Regions from separate parts of the Homo sapiens genome. Here region 1 is linked to region 2. The links come from fine-mapping of genetic effects on gene expression. Tissue or cell type: whole blood. Region 2 holds a variant in brackets; the other region holds the start of a gene. All regions are shown on one strand. Distances are between the middles of the regions.

The links. PIP is the estimated chance that this variant, and not a neighbour inherited with it, causes the effect.
Region 1: ELF4 starts here. The variant in region 2 is fine-mapped to the expression of ELF4 in whole blood (TOPMed, PIP 0.99).

Annotation. Positions count from the first base shown.
Region 1 is chrX:130,105,564-130,113,669 of GRCh38, reverse strand. ELF4 (E74 like ETS transcription factor 4) reads left to right here and starts at 3,173. Exons shown (of 9, transcript NM_001421.4): 1 at 3,173-3,345. It also overlaps a transcript of RAB33A not described here. RefSeq lists silencers at 2,442-2,561, 2,632-2,681, 2,692-2,741, 2,992-3,141, 3,222-3,291.
Region 2 is chrX:130,199,977-130,208,082 of GRCh38, reverse strand. It overlaps ZNF280C (zinc finger protein 280C), which reads left to right. Exons shown (of 19, transcript NM_017666.5): 17 at 2,668-2,786; 18 at 2,930-2,966; 19 at 3,091-5,376. The coding sequence ends at 3,106. Among named protein-coding and RNA genes, the nearest start is that of RAB33A, 32 kb to the right of the region's middle. The variant T/C (reference allele first, on the strand shown) is at 3,456.

The DNA of each region.
Region 1 (8,106 bases), 94 kb after region 2:
GGCGCATCACCTGAGGTCAGGAGTTTGAGACCAGCCTGACCAACATGGAGAAACCCCATCTCTACTAAAAATACAAAAATTAGCCAGGTGTGGTGGCGTATGCCTATAATCCCAGTTACTCGGGAGGCTGAGGCAGGAGAATCGCTTGAACCCAGGAGGCAGAGGTTGCGGTGAGCCGAGATCACACCATTGCACTCCAGCCTGGGCAAGAAGAGTGAAATTCCGTCTCAAAAAAAAAAAAATCTAAACTAAAAGAGTATAACTGGATTGTATATAACACAAAGAAAGAGGCCGGGCGCAGTGGCTCACGCCTGTAATCCCAGCACTTTAGGAGGCCGAGGCGGGTGGATGACGAGGTCAGGAGATCGAGACCATCCTGACTAACACAGTGAACCCCTGCCTCTACTAAAAAATACAAAAAATTAGCCGGGCATGGTGGCGGGTTCCTGTAGTCCCAGCTACTCAGGAGGCTGAGGCAGGAGAATGGCATGAACCCGGGAGGTGGAGCTTGCAGTGAGCCGAGATCGCGCCACTGCACTCCAGTCTGGGAGAAAGAGCGAGACTCCATCTCAAAAAAAAAAAAAAAAAAAAAGAAGGAAAAAAAAAAAAGAAAAAGAAAACACACAAAGAAAGGAGAAATGCTTGAGGTGACAGATACCCCATTTACCCTGATGTGATTATTACACATTGCATGCCTGTATCAAAACATCTCATGTAACCCATAAATACACACACCTACAATGTACCCATAAAAATAAAAAACAAAAATAAAAAAATTAATTTATTTAATTTATTTATTTTTTTGAGATGGAGTCTCACTGTGTCATCCAGGCTGGAGTGCAGTGGCACGATCTCGGCTCACTGCAACCTCTGCCTCCCAGGTTCAAGTGACTCTCCTGCCTCAGCCTCCCGAGTAGCTGGAACTACAGGCATGCACCACCACACCGGCTAATTTTTGTATTTTTAGTAGAGATGGGGTTTCACCATGTTGGCCAGGCTGGTCTTGAACTCCTGACCTCAAGTGATCCACCCCGCTCGGCATCCCAAAGTGCTGGGATTACAGGCATGAGTCACCACACCCAGCCTAGTTTTTGTTTTTGTTCTGTTTTAAAGAAGAAAAGTGAGGCTCAGAGAGTTTAAGTGACTTGCCTGAAGTCACACAGCTGGTAAATAGTGAGCTGGAATAGGAACCCAGGTCTGTCTGAGGTTACAGACCACTGAGCTCTTAGCAAAATGGGAAAGTGTGTGTGTGTGCACGCGTGTGCAGACGTGTCTGTCCATTCGTGAATTTCAAAGTCAAGGTAAAGAGGGCTTAGGGACATCCGGAACCTACCCCAAATTTGAGAGGGGACCTCGTGGATGAGAGGCCAGCAGAGAACTGTGTGTCTCCAGGATCTGGAATCCCCTGGGAAAAGCATGCCCGCTTGGAAAAGACAAAGTGCTTGTTTTGGGGACTTGATTCTGAGTATCCAGGAGGTCTCAGGGGCCGGCGCCCCAGTCCAGCCACAGGATCTTTCCTTGGGAACTTGTAATCTGCAGCTGCCTTTGTGGCCATCATCCACCACCACTCCTGTCCCCCAGTCCTGCGCCTGAGATGATCCTTTCCCAAGGCAGGAGAAGCAGGCCGATGCTGGAGGCTGAGTAGGTCCTTCAACCTCAAGCCCTTTAGAAGGCCCCATCCCCTGGGGCTCCTTCAGTCTTGATGCTTTCTGCCAAGGCTTAGGCCTTGCTGCCCCCACCCCCAAAAAGGCCACGTGGAACTATACAGAGTAACAATTCCCAGCGCACTCTCTCCAGAGCCTCCTATCAGCAGACCCACGTAGGCGGCGGTATTGATGTTGAGGCAGGTCAGAGAGGGCAAAGGGGAGATAGAAGGGGAGCGTGCCTGAGTGGCTTTCAAGTGGGCGCGTGGAGCAGAGCAGCCTGGCTTTGGACAGGGGAAGAAAGGTAGGCATGGGCTTTCTTCCAGCACCCGAACTCTGGCTCTCTTTGCACTTGCTGGGCCAGCCCCTCTCCCCCTAGCCCTTCCCCTGACTCATATCTTGCCAGCGTCCCCCACCCCAACTTCCCGCAGGAGTCCTAGACTCGACTTCCCTAAGAAGTCGCCGAAACTCTCCAGTCACCCCAGGTGTTACGCCCAGGATTCTGCGGAGTCGGGCATATGGTTCCAAAATTGTATCCTCTGGGCATCTCGCGGCCTCACCCGCCGCACGGCCCGCCCTCCCGCTGGGGCCTGCACACCCCAGGAGCTCAATAATGTGGAGCGCAGGGCTTGGCCCAAAGGCGTCAAGCAAGTCTCCACTTGCACGGGCCGAGGGGGCTGGACGAAACCTTCCCGAGTCCGCGGGGAAGGGATTTCTCTGCGGGGCGTTGTATGGGGGCTTCGCACCGGGAAGGGCGCGGAACGAGCAGAGAGCTCGGAGTCTCGCTGGCTAGAAGCAGAGTGGGGAGCGCCCGCCCGGGCCGCGGCGCACGACGCGGGCTCTGCGGGCGCCCTGCCTCGTGGTCCCCCGGGCGCGAGCGAGCCGCGAGGGGAATGAGAGGCCGCGCGGGCCCCTGGCACGGCTCCCCATGCCGTGCTGGCGACCGCGGCGGGCGGGCCGGGGCGGACGGGCGCTGTTTCCACCGAGATGCCTCGTCCCTCCCTCGTTCCCTCCCCCACCCCGCCCGCCCGCAGTCCCTCCCGTCGGTCCCTCCCTCCGGCTCTTCCCTCCCTCCCGCCCTGCCTCCTTCGCGCCCGCCCCATCCGCCGCCTGCGGGGACGTGTGTGTCTCTACTGCATTTCCCCTTTCGCTCGCTCGTTTCGGTGCATGTCTGCGCCGGTTCGCGCCCCCTCCCCGGGCGCCCCTGCCGCCCCGTGTCTTGGCCCGGCCCTCCCCGGCGTCCGCCCCGCTCCCCGCGCGCTCCACCCCGCCCCCCGCCCCGTTTTATCAGGGGCGCCGCCGTCTCACCTGGTATTTGCATCTCTCCCTCCAACTTGCCATTGGCGGCGCGAAGTGTGGGAGAGCCCTGCGCCTCGCCCGCCCGGACCAGCCTGCCCCGGCGCCGAGGTGAGTCACGGGCGCGGGGTGGCGGGGGCAGGCGGGCGGGGAAGAAGGGCGGGCGGGGAGGAGGGCGGGGGACGGCGGCCCCGGCGGCCGCGGGGACCGACCGGGCGCCGCGCTCAACTTCCACTTCTCCTTTCGCCGGCGCCGAGTTCCTGGCGCCGCTCGCCCGGCCCGGCTTCCGAGGGGAGAGGACGGGCTGGCGGGGCTGGGGACCCGCGTCTCGGCCCCCGGAGCGGGGACCACGGAGACAGACCCCGGCCCGGCGACCGAGCTGGGCCCGTGAGCCACTCGGCCTCAGGTACGTCGATGGCGCCGGTTCTTCGAGCCTTGGGGGACGTGGAAAAGTTTGCTTGAGGGCGGAATCGAGAGCGCCGGGGCCCCGGCGTGGGGCTGGGGGCCCAGGGAAGGGCGGGAGAGTCGCGGAGTGTCGCGAGCCGCCCTGGAGTCGCCCCGCCGCGCGTGTGATGGAGAACCCGGGCTCCCGATCCCGGGATGGAAGTGGAATGGATTCCCCGAGTCGGGGAGTCGGGGTAGGGGCCCCTGTTTTCCCTCGCCCCCGGCAGCCTGGGTTCCGTGACGGGGCCGATCATGACAGCGGGCCCCCAGAAGCTGGGCGCCCGAGGGCAGAGGAGGTGGGGCGGACCGCGGCGGAGCTGCTAGATGGATCCGACTGCCCCCGGGGCTTCTGGGGCCAGGGCTTTAGGGTCACACGCACACACGCGCACGCAGACCTATGATGTGGAGAACTGGATCGCCAAAATAGAGACCTCTTGGCAGGGGCCGGAGTTTCCGTGTGAGCCAGCCGCCAGCCTTCCCGCTCCCGCGTTCCCGCTCTCCCCGACTCTCCCGCCTCCGGGTTCCCTCCTGGGCCGCCGCCTAGGGGATTCAGCAGCCGCACCGTGCGGGGTCCCCTCACGCCAGCGCCTTGCTTTGGAGGCTTGAGGGACTGCTGAGGCGGTGACCGCTTTATGAATTCCTGGCTCCTCCACCGCACCCTAACCCTGACTCCCTTTTCTCACCACCGTATGCCTGCACATCACCTTCCTGACCAGAGTCACCTCCTGACCCCTTGGCACCTCGGCTCAGCGAGGTCCTCCTGGGCCGCCCCCGCCCCGCACCATACCCCAGCTGAGGGATTTGATGGCCATTTGATTCCTGCCCCTCATCCCTCGGCCTGTGATAGAGGCCTGTCTGGTCCTGCAGCCTCTTCTGGTTAATGTTTGACAGTTCATTGTGGCTAATTATTTTAATTAGCTCTTAAAGTGGGAAAGAACAGTTAACCTTGGACTTCTCGATTTTGGCCTGGTGGGGCCTCAAATGGGAGGAGTGCTGGGGAGGTGGGGAGGTAGGAGCGGAAGTGAGGTCACCACCCCAGGGCCTGAACCACCACTGCTCAGCCCCAACAGCTGGTGGGCACGCCCATTGGGGACTCACCCCCTGCCAGCTGACCCCTGGCCCGAGTGCCAGGTTGGAGGTGGGTGAAGGGAACAGTTCTAGCTCTTCCCTTTGGGGAGACTTTGGCACTGAAAATGCCCGGGGAACACATATGCCCAGCAAGAATGCCAGTCCTTCCTTGCAGTTAGTTACACTGGGTTTTCCTGGTTATAAAGTGCTTTCTCAACCATTAATTCAGATTCAGTGCATCCAGTACAGGAGCAGCGTAGGGGGAGCTCTCTGGAGTTCAGTGAAGATTATCAGGGAGGACTTCCTATCCCAGCCAGCTGGTGTGAGGAAGAGGCTACCTTGCATCTGGTTGTTTTTGGGGCTGGATTCAGAGCCTGGGATCTCTTGTTGGGGGCAGGGGTGGGGGGGACCATGAAGCAGGCTCCATGCTACCACCCTCACCCAGCCTCTTGCTGTGAGCCGAAGGAGTGGCTTGTTTGCAACTATGTCTGGCATTCCTCCCTGTGCTGCACTGTTTGCTCGGTGGTTGCTCAGGAACTGGCGCCCACCCCTGGACAACCTAGGGGCCCAAAATTCACTCTCCCTCACCTAGTGCTAAGTGGTGACACAGTGGCTTCTGTCTTCTCTGGCATATATTGGGATCTAAAATAGAGGGTGCTGTGGTCTGTCTCTAGGGGCCTGAGTGATAGCATGTCCAAAATGCCCCTCATCTTGCAAAAATCAGGCCCTGTGCCGCACAGACCCAGCTAGACACAGGCTGAGGAGTTTGCTTTCCTGGGGAAACCTCTGCTCTTCTGCTCTTAAGCTTGGCCTTCTTCCTTTCCACATCCCCTACCCCCGCAATGTAATTTTACATCCAGTTTTTGTTTTTGCGTTTAGAGTGTTGTTTTTTTTTTGGTTTTTGTTTTTTAATTCAGGGTCTCACTTTGTCACCCAGGCTGGAGTGCAGTGGCACAGTCACAGCTCACTGTAATCTTGAACTCCTTACCTCCAGTTCTTTTTTTTTTTTTGAGATGGAGTTTCACTCTTGTTGCCCAGGCTGGAGTGCAATGGCACGATCTTGGCTCGCCGCAACCTCCGCCTCCCAGGTTCAAGTGATTCTCCTGCCTCAGCCTCCCGAGTAGCTGGGATTACAGGCATGTACCACCACGCCCGGCTAATTTTGTATTTTTGGTAGAGACGGGGTTTCTCCGTGTTGGTCAGGCTGGCCTCGAACTCCTGACCTCAGGTGATCCACCCGCCTCCGCCTCCCAAAGTGCTGGATTATAGGCGTGAGCCACTGTGCCCAGCTACCTCCAGTTCTTAAAGCCTGGCTGTCTAGGTTGAAATCCCAGCATTGTTATTTACTAGCTATGTGATCCCAGTCAATTGTATGCCCCAGTTTCCTTATCTGTCACATGAGACCACTTTATAACACTTTGGTGAGGATCAAATACATGAATGAATACATATAAGATGCTTATTAGAACAGCACATGGCACACAGTAAGTGCTAGCTGCCCTTACGATATTGCCTAATGCAGCGCCTAAAACTCAGATTCAATTCAGCAAACACTTGCTCAGAGCCGGTCCTAGTACCAGACCCCAATGAAGTGGCAGTGAGGAAAACATGGATGTGAGGAAGACACCACCTGCCTTCCGGGATTGTGTGTACCTTTTCGTGTGGGCTGGAGTCAGAGCAGGTGTACAGGAAGGGGTCAGGGAGAGGGGATATGTCATCTATATAAATAATTGTAATTGGAAGCCAGGATCAAATTCCTGAGCCAGTGTGGGGGATCAAGCACCCTAGACTTGGGGGCTTCTCTTTGCCTGAAGACCCTGGCCAGATTCTGGTCTAGATGCACCTCCCACCCTCCCCACACACAGAGTCTTGCCCTAGGATTTGGGTGAATGAGAGGGAAAGGAACACTGGTTTTCTTTTCTTTTCTTTTCTTTTCTTTTTGAGATGGAGTCTTGCTCTGTCGCCCAGGCTGGAGTGCAGTGGCCCAATCTCGGTTCACTGCAAGCTCTGCCTCCCAGGCCCAAGCATTTCTCCCTGCCTTAGCCTTCTGAATAGCTAGGATTACAGGTGCCCACAACCTTCCCCAGCTAATTTTTGTATATTTTAGTAGAGACGGGGTTTCACCATGTTGGCCAGGCTGGTCTTGAACTATTGACCTCAGGTGATCCGCCCGTCTTGGCCTCCCAAAGTGCTGTGATTACAGGCGTGAGCCATTGCTCCTGGCTGGGACACTGGTTTCTGCATGAGCTACAGGTGGCAATCTTGCAGGATGTCATTTGTTGGGTTCCAGGGCAGGATGGCATTTCTTAGGGACACCCCCCAAACATCCCTATAGCCCCCTGCAGTGGAAGGGGTCATGTCTGCCATGCCCCCTGTCTCCCCAGGATCTCCCACCGAGCTGGGAAAGGCCCTGGGCAGCCTTCTGTCCTCAGGGTAGGGCCTGACCCCAACCCGGGCTTGGCATCTCTCCTGGATTTCTAAGCTGCAAAGAGGTTTCTGGCTTCTCTTCCAATTTATTCTTTTTGTGGTTCTCAGACTGAAAACTACTTCTGCAGGGGAGAAAGGAAACTCCTGCAAGGCACCCAGAATCCCATAGGCGCTTTCCTAGGGGTCAGGGGCTTTTCTCATCAACACCAACCTGCCTGCAAATCTCTGGCCGCTGAGCCTCGTGTGTCCTGTAATAGCAGCCACACTGCTAATGCCCTGTAGCTCGGGCCCCAGTGCTGGTTGCCAAGAAACTGCTGGTCGGGGTGCTTATGAGGGTTCTGACCTCATAGGGGCTGCTGAGTTTCAATTCAACAGACATTTATTAATACCTACTGTGTGCCCAACCGATGCTAGGCGCCGTGGGGGAGATGAGAGAAGGAGGCGCTGGGGAAGAGATGACTAAGACACTGAAACAATCAGAGGCGAGGACAAGCAGCCGGGCCAGTGGCTGGTCAGGTGCTAATTGTGCTTGTTGGAGCAGAGGCCAGCACGGCTGGGACTGGAGGTCAGCAGCAGCTGGAGGAGGGAGGGAAGGCTTTGTGAGGGATGCGGGCCTAGGCTAGACCTTGAAGGGGGGAGAGGGGGAAGCAAGGGGGAGATTTGGCTCAGCAGAAAAGGAAGAAAAGACGCCTTTCTCTCTATTCCCTGGCCACGAACTGACCTTCGAAGCCTGGATGATTGTTTGGCAAATGTGTGTCACATAAAAGACCAGGTCAGCTAGTGTGGGTGGCTCAGTGCAAACCCCTGTCTCCACTCCGGGAGATATAAACTGGCTGGCCAGCCTGCCACCCAAGCTGAGGGGATTTCGTTTGAAACCCCTCCCTTACCAGACACACACACACACACACACACACACACACACACACACACACACACAGGCCCCTGGGGAGTGGGAGAGATGGCAGGGGAGACGTAGGGCACTTAAATGACAGGAAAACTGACATGCCACTTGTGCTCATGGCAGTCTCAGGCTGGCTGGATCCCACCTTTTCCCCAGGGTTCTGGGATTTCTCTGGAAGCCCAGAGCTTCAGGTGGAGGAAAGAGATTTTCATAATTGTTCCCCACTCCACCATCTGGGAAATGAAGAATGTAGAGTTTCATGTGTTTCTGCCCAGACCGCTAAGGACTAGCCATATATTGCTTCCACTGATTCTGTGTCTCCCAAGG
Region 2 (8,106 bases):
TAATTACTATTTTGTTAAAATGAAATATTCTTTAGCTATTTATTGTGTACCTATCATGTATAATACAGCGTAGGAAGTCCTATACAGATGACCGTGATGAAGAAGGCTTGTACCAACCTTCAAGGAATGTACAATTTATTAAAGGGGTATGGATATAAGGTGTGAACATAAATAACTACAGTAATTCAAAGAGGTTTCTAGTAAGTGCAGTGAGAGATACAGATTTCAAAGGGGAGAAAGGTTTCTACTTACAAGAAGAGGCACAAGGGCATTCTAGTTGGAAGAAATAACATGAATAAAAGTTCAGAAAGGAAAATGCAGAAACTATACACATTCTCCGGAATGACAATGAATAACTAGGAGTAAAATTTGGATGAAGCACAAAGTTCATATAGCATAGTATTATATTAAGATCAAAGTTGGCCGGGCACGGTGACTCATGCCTGTAATCCCAGCACTTTGGGCAGCTGAGGTGGGTGGATCACCTGAGGTCAGGAGTTTAAGACCAACCTGGCCAACATGGCAAAACCCCATCTCTACTAAAAATGCAAAAAAAATTAGCCGGGCATGGTGGTGTGCGCCTGTAATCGCAGCTACTCAGAGGCTGAGGCAAGAGAATCACTTGAACCCGGGAGGTGGAGGTTACAGTGAGCCGAGATCGCGCCACTGCACTCCAGCCTGGGTGACAGAGTGGGACTCCATTCCAAAAATAAAAAAAGATCAGTCTGGGGAGATAGTTTTGAACTTAGATGCAGATTGTTGAATCCTTGAAAACAAGGCTGGGGAGTTTGGGCTTAATTTTCATTTGGAAGACATTGGGGAAGCCATTGATGTTTTGAGTAGAATCAAGGGTGCTGAAGGAAGATCACTTTGGAGGAGTATACAGGATGAGTTGTAGCTGCATGAGACACATAGGCTGGTTAAGGCTATTGTAGTGGTTAAGACTTACTTAATAATGCCCTGGGCTGAGGTGGTGGGGTGGTATCACATCATATTTAAGAGCATGGGCTTCAGAATCAAAGGGCTCCATTTCCAACCTGATCCTGGCCTCAGTAGATTACTGAAACTAATTCTGTCCTCTGTAAAAAGGTAATAATTGTAGCACCTATCTCTTTGGGTTGCCATAAGATTTAGATCAGGCAATAATGTCTAAAACCCTCAGACTGGCATAGAGTAAGTACTCGATAAATCGTTAACATCATAAAACGTTTGAAATATTGAATGTTTTACGTAAGAAGAAAGTCAGAGATAACTACAAATTTGAGCCTCAGTATTAGGGAAATGGCATCATAAAAGAGACTTTCCCCCTAAATTTCATGGGGAAAGCACATGATTCCAGTTTTATGAAGATAATTTTTGATGTGCAGGAGTTCTGGCTAGGTGTAAATCCACAACAGGTTGTTAAAACTAGAGAAGTAGCCAGGCACGGTGGCTTACGCCTATAATCCCAGCACTTTGGGAGGCCGAGGCGGGTGGATCACGAGGTCAGGAGATTGAGACCATCCTGGCTAACACAGTGAAACCCTGTCTACTAAAAAATACAAAAAAATTAGCCAGGCGTGGTGGCAGGCGCCTGTAGTCCCAGCTACTTGGAAGGCTGAGGCAGGAGAATGGCATGAACCCGGGAGGCGGAGCTTGCAGTGAGCCAAGATTGTGCCACTGCACTCCAGCCTGGACAACAGAGCCAGACTCCGTCTCAAAAAAAAAAAAAAAAAAAAAAACTAAAGAAGTCAATCCAAGGTATGCACTGGTTTCCTATAGAGGTGAAATATTTAAGTTTAAAGTATCTGATGAACTTCAAAAGTATATGTATGCTTTGTTAATAAACTGATAATTACAGGATTTTAAAACCTTCACATTTCTTTTCTAATTTTATCCTCATTTGACTAAGATACTAGATTGCAGAATCCACACACTGTACCTTTTTTGTTTACTGTTATATCTACAATACCTAGTAGTACAGTGTGGGTGAAGAAGGTTGTCAGCAAATGAATATTTATATATTTCAGTGAATGAATATTATATCCTTGCTTTGTAAGTAATAACTTGCACACATTACTTAAGTTGTTAAGGGAGACTTGGCTTTGAGTCTCTTGATGCCTAGCTTTCAGCAACAAGTTGAGAGGTGACAATTTATAAAGCACTAAATGTTAGCGTAATTTGAATATGGCGATGCCATTTTCTTTTCCTTTTTTTTTTTTTTTTTTAACATAGTCTCGCAGCTGGAGTGCAGTGGCACAATCTTGGCTCACTGCAACCTCCGCCTCCTGGGTTCAAGCAATTCTCCTGTCTCAGCCTCCCAAGTAGCTGAGAGTAGCTGGGGCTACAGACTCACGCCATGATGCCTGACTAATTTTTGTATTTTTAGTAGAGACGAGGTTTCACCATATTGGTCAGGCTGGTCTCGAACTCCTGACCCCAGGTGATCCATCCACCTCTGCCTCCCAAAGTGCTGGGATTACAGGCATGAGCCACCGTGCCTGGCCAGCGATGCCATTTTCTAGAGAACTATTTTAAATATATCAAGTTTATATAACAAAATTGGAAAATGACGGTTGTGGAGACTAAAATGCAAATCAAGTTAGTACATGGAAAAGTAATTATTGAGCTCATATGGATTTTCATAAATGATAAGAATATTTCTTACTGTCTTCTTTTTTTTCATAGGGGCATTACTCTAGTGTGCCTTAAATGTGATTTCCTAGCTGATTCTTCCGGCTTAGATCGTATGGCTAAACACTTAAGTCAACGTAAAACTCATACTTGCCAAGTTATAATAGAGAATGGTACGTATATATAATTGTGTTTCTTTGATTTTCTGATATTTATTTCAGTACTTTTGATCGGACACCATATGGACCCATGTATTAAATTGATAGTCTCACTCTTCATATATGCTATTGTAAATGTAAAACTCTTTTGATTTCAGTTTCCAAAAGTACCTCAACTTCTGAACCCACTACTGGGTAAGTTTAATTTTCCTTCAGTGCATTTTGCTTTGATGGACTTTAGCACTGTTGTATTTTTTAATGAATCATTAATATTAATATAAATGAAAAATATTAAAGTTTTTTTTTTTTTTTCTTAAAGCTGCTCATTGAAATAGATTCCTGCTCCATGGAGTTCATGCAACCTGGTGCAAGACAAGTTGGAAGTTCCTAAGTTCAAAGTTCTGAAGTATTTTCTCACACAAAGGGCAGTTAAACAGCCAAGTTTATGACACTAGCTCTCATTATTCAGCTCTTTTCAGCTTTCAGATGCCACTACATTGTTATTCCACCTTATCTTTGCGTCAGGTTAACATATCTTAACATATTTTTTTCTCCAGTTGGCTCTCTCCAAAAATGCCTTTTGTTTTTCTCTGCTATACTTGACTTGCCTTCAGAATATTACATTCCAGATAATATGACTGTTCATCTTTTTCTGTCTGTTTTGTCTGCTTTCTTAATTTCTTA[T/C]AAGTCTTACATGTTTAGGTCAGATAACCATTTTTTCTTCATTCCTTGTTCATTACTGTTCTATTTTTCATATTTTTCAAATGAAGAAGCAACACATAAGTTTCAAAAAATATCCAGGGTACTCCTGGACAGTGTCCCCTTTTGATGGACACAACTGATACCTGTTCTTTCTTTCCAAGAAATGTGAATTATTTGACTGTGAGACGTCCTCTAGTTTGTGGCCTTCAGAAATCAGATCTTGGGGAGAGTCCCTTCCTACCTGACTGACCTCCCATAAGGCTGATGCTGATTTGGCCAGAGATGACCTCAAGGCCCACCAAATAGAGCACAACTTCCCATTGGGAGCTTTGGCTTTTGATCTTAAGCTTATGGGTCGATTCTAACCAAGAAAAGTCCATGAGATCAGTGCTTCAACATCCAGGTTGACGTTTAACCATTTTGGCTGCTGCTCTTTAATTTTCCTCTAGCAGGCATGCAGTCCAAGGAATATCAAAATTCTGATTGTATGGGAACCAAGGTTACTTTCTTGTTCTTGGATAAAGAAAATTTCTACAATTACAGTTCCCAAAGACACAGTTGTTCATGTTATTTAAAGTTTTATCCAGTATTCTAGGAATTTTCAGCAATACTAATATTCTCATTTTTAAACATTTTTTACATTTTATTTTGTTTTATTTTGGTAGCTTGGTTTTATATTGTTTTTAGATCAGTGCTTCAACATCCAGGCTGACGTTTAGCCATTTTGGCTGCTGTTCTTTAATCTTCCTCTAGCAGGCATGCAGTCCAAGGAATATCAAAATTCTGGTTGTATTGGGAACCAAGGTTACTTTCTTGTTTTTGGAAAAACAAAATTTCTACAATTACAGTTCCCAAAGTCAGTTATTCATGTTTTCATTTAAAGTTTTATCCAATATTCTAGGAATTTTCAGCAATACTGATATTCACTTTATTTTTTTTCTTTTTTTAAGACAGAGTCTTGCTCTGTCACCCAGGCTGGAGTGCAGTGGCGCGATCTTGGCTCACTGCAAGCTCCGCCTCCTGGGTTCACGCCATTCTCCTGCCTCAGTCTCCCAAGTACCTGGGATGACAGGCGCCTGCCACCACGCCCGGCTAATTTTTAATTTTTTGTATTTTTAGTAGAGACAGGGTTTCACCATGTTAGCCAGGATGGTCTCGATCTCCTGACGTCGTGATCAGTCCGCCTCGTCCTCCCAAAGTGCTGGGATTACAGGTGTGAGCCACTGCACCCGACCGATACTCACATTTTTAAACTTTTTTTTTAATTTTATTTTGGTAGCTAGGTTTTATATTGTTCTTAAATTTATTTTACTCTATTTTATTTTTCCATCACTTCTTTGTCCCAGATTCATGAAATTTGCTGATGTCCATTTTATGTCTACTTTTGAACTCTTCTCTTTGTGTTTGTTTTGTTCTTATTACAAACTCCAAGACATTTCTTAGAATTGTCTACAGATTTCGTGTAGCTACTTATTGGTAGCTTCTTAATTTCATACTTGTCCAGACCATTAGACATTATTACATGCTCTGTCTTGGGCCTATCATTAACATTAGCTTAGGGATTCTGATTTCAAAGACATAAAGAATTGGCAAAACTCTTCTTACAGAACTTAAAACAAGTTTTAAAGTTACATTTCTATACATCTAATACATAATACCTTCTTAGCCATTAATGTAATTCCTCTGGATAAAGATAATATATTCAAAAAATATTGGGACCAAAAAATGCACTTGTTTCTTGCTCATATATATATAGATGTATATTTTTTTTAATTTCTTGTTTGTTTATTTTGGTTACATTGAATACAGATTTGCTGAACAGTTTTGATGTTATTTTTTTAATAAAATTTGTATTGTTAAAGTGCCTTGGAAATTTCTAATAAATAACTTCATATAAAAGCTATCATATAACTATAGGAGCATTGCTTTGCTCCTAGTTCCGTGGAGCCTGATTGCTTGACCTGCAGACTGAAAGCTTTATCTGCTGAGCACATCTTGTACTTTTTCCTCCAGCACAGTTAAAAGCAAACTATTTACACTTTACTAATTTCTTGAGCAGCTAGCAAAAGCCCCCTTTGTGATCTTAATAGTCATGAAGGTGGGCAGGCTCTGAAGTCATTTGACTCAATATGGGTGTTTTTTAACTCCAAAATTAGAACTGGACCAGGTACAATGTCTCATGCCAGTAATCCCCAATACTTTGAGAGGCTGAGGTGGGAGCCAGGAGTTTAAGACCAGCCTGGGCAACATAGCAACACTCTGTCCCTACCACAAAAAAAAAAAAAAAAAAAAGCTGGGTGTGGTGGCATATGCCTGTAGTCCTAGCTACTCAGGAGGCTGAGGCAGGAGGATCGCTTGAGCCCAGAAGTTCGAGGCTGCAGTGAACTATGATCATGCCACTGCATTCCAGCCTAAGCCACAAAGCAAGACCCTGCTTTAAAAAAAAAAAGAAAATTAAAACTGCTTTGATATACTTTGAAACACTGAAAGCCAGTGTCATTGGCCACTGCTATGTAGTATACTCCTTGCAATTCATAGTCAGGAGTTGAATCCATTAATTTTAATTTTCCAAACAGATTTCTGCTCTAAATGATTTTCCCAAATCTCCAAAAGGGGCTTATGTCATAGTCGTGGACTTGGTAATCCTTTTCTTTCCATACCTTTCTCTAGGATGTTTTGTCAAACACCATTTTTCTACCCATTTTTTTTTTACTTTTTTTATTATGGTAAAATGTATGAAATTTGCCATTTAAAATCATTTTCATTCAGCAGCATTAATGACACCCAACTTTAAGTTTTAAACTTTTTCCCAGAAATAACAACTTATTTGCATTTTTAGCATTGGTCTTCTTTTTATTTACAGATATTTTCTCTGTCTCTATCACAGTTCAAAAATACAGAAAACCACATTCTTGCTATAGCAGTATTTTAGGTAGAGGTACAGTTTTGTGTTCTTCCATAGGATTCTGTTTCTTATACTATGTATCAAGTTATTTTAAAGTTTAATGCTCTGGAAGTTATGTGTCCCATAGCATCACTTTTTTTAAACTTTGTTTAAATAAAACTATTTATGCAGTCAGTACTAAGCTTACTTGTTATAAGCAGTTGAGTTTTAATAGGTGTTAGTGAGTTTTAGCTTGACAATCTGATCCCTCTTCACCTTCAGACTGTTAGTTATTTCACCTGATTCAGAAATAGCCATGTCATGCATGTGTCCTTTTTTGTTTTCAACTGAATAAAAGGTATGGTTGGCTCAGTTTCAGTCCATCACTATTATTATTTTTTAAAAAAACACTAAATGACAAAGACTTAGATTCTTGCCCTTCTTTGTGTCACATTTTGGCAAAACACCTCTTTCAGTCTTTTTTCTTTTTTTTTTTTTTTTGAGACGGAGTCTCGCTCTGTCGCCTAGGCTGGAGTGCAATGGGGCGATCTCAGCTCACTGCAAGCTCTGCCTCCCGGGTTCACACCATTCTGCCTCAGCCTCCCGAGTAGCTGGGACTACAGGCGCCTGCCACCACGCCCAGCTAATTTTTTGTATTTTTAGTAGAGACTGGGTTTCACCAGGATGGTCTCGATCTCCTGACCTTGTGATCCGCCCGCGTCGGTCTCCCAAAGTGCTGGGATTACAGGCTTGAGCCACTGCGCCCAGCCTCTCAGTCTCATTTATTCGGTAAATATTACCTACTATGTGCCTGGCACTGTTGTAGTTGTTGGAAATACAAACTGAAATCTCTGCCTTCATGGGACTTAAATTTCTGTGTTGGGAGACAGACAATAGAAAGTAAATAACGTATAGTATGTTAATGGTGATGAAGTCTACGGAGGAAAATAAGGGAGATAGCAACATACAGGTTGGTGGTTGAGAGGTTGCCGTTTTAAATTTGATGGTCAAGTTGGGCCTCCTTGAGAAGATGGCATTTGAGTAAAGACCTGAAGGAGGTGAGGAAGTGAGCCACCTGGGTATCTGTCAGAGGAGCTTTCTAGAGAGGGGAAACAAGTGCAAAAGCCCTGAGGCAGAAATTGGAACCCTCATGTATTGCTGGTGGCAGTGTAAAATGGTCCAGCCACTATGAAAAACAGTTTGGCAGTTCCTCAAAAAGGTTAAGTGTAGAATTACCATATGACCCGGCAGTTTCACTCCAAAGAATCCAAAGCAGAGACTCAGATACTTGTATATGCATGTTCATAGCAGCACTATTCACAATAGCCAAAAGATAGAAATTGCCTAAATGTCACCCACAGATAAAGGGATAAATAAATTATGGTGTGTTGCCGGGCGCGGTGGTTCATCCCTGTAATTCCAGCACTTTGGGAGGCCGAGGCAGGTGGATCACCTGAGATCAGGAGTTTGAGACCAGCCTGTGCAACATGGCAAAACGCCGTCACTACTAAAAATACAAAAATTAGCTGGGTGTGGTGGTGGGTGCCTGAAGTCCCAGCTACTGGGGAGGCTGAGGCACAAGAATCACTTGAACCTGGGAGGCAGAGGTTGCAGTGAGCTGAGATCACACCACTGCACTCCAGCCTGGGTGACAAAGCAAGACTCTGTCTCAAAAGTTATGGTGTGTCCATACAACGGAATATTTTTCAGCCACAAAAAAGAACAAAGTGCTGATACTTGCTACAGTGT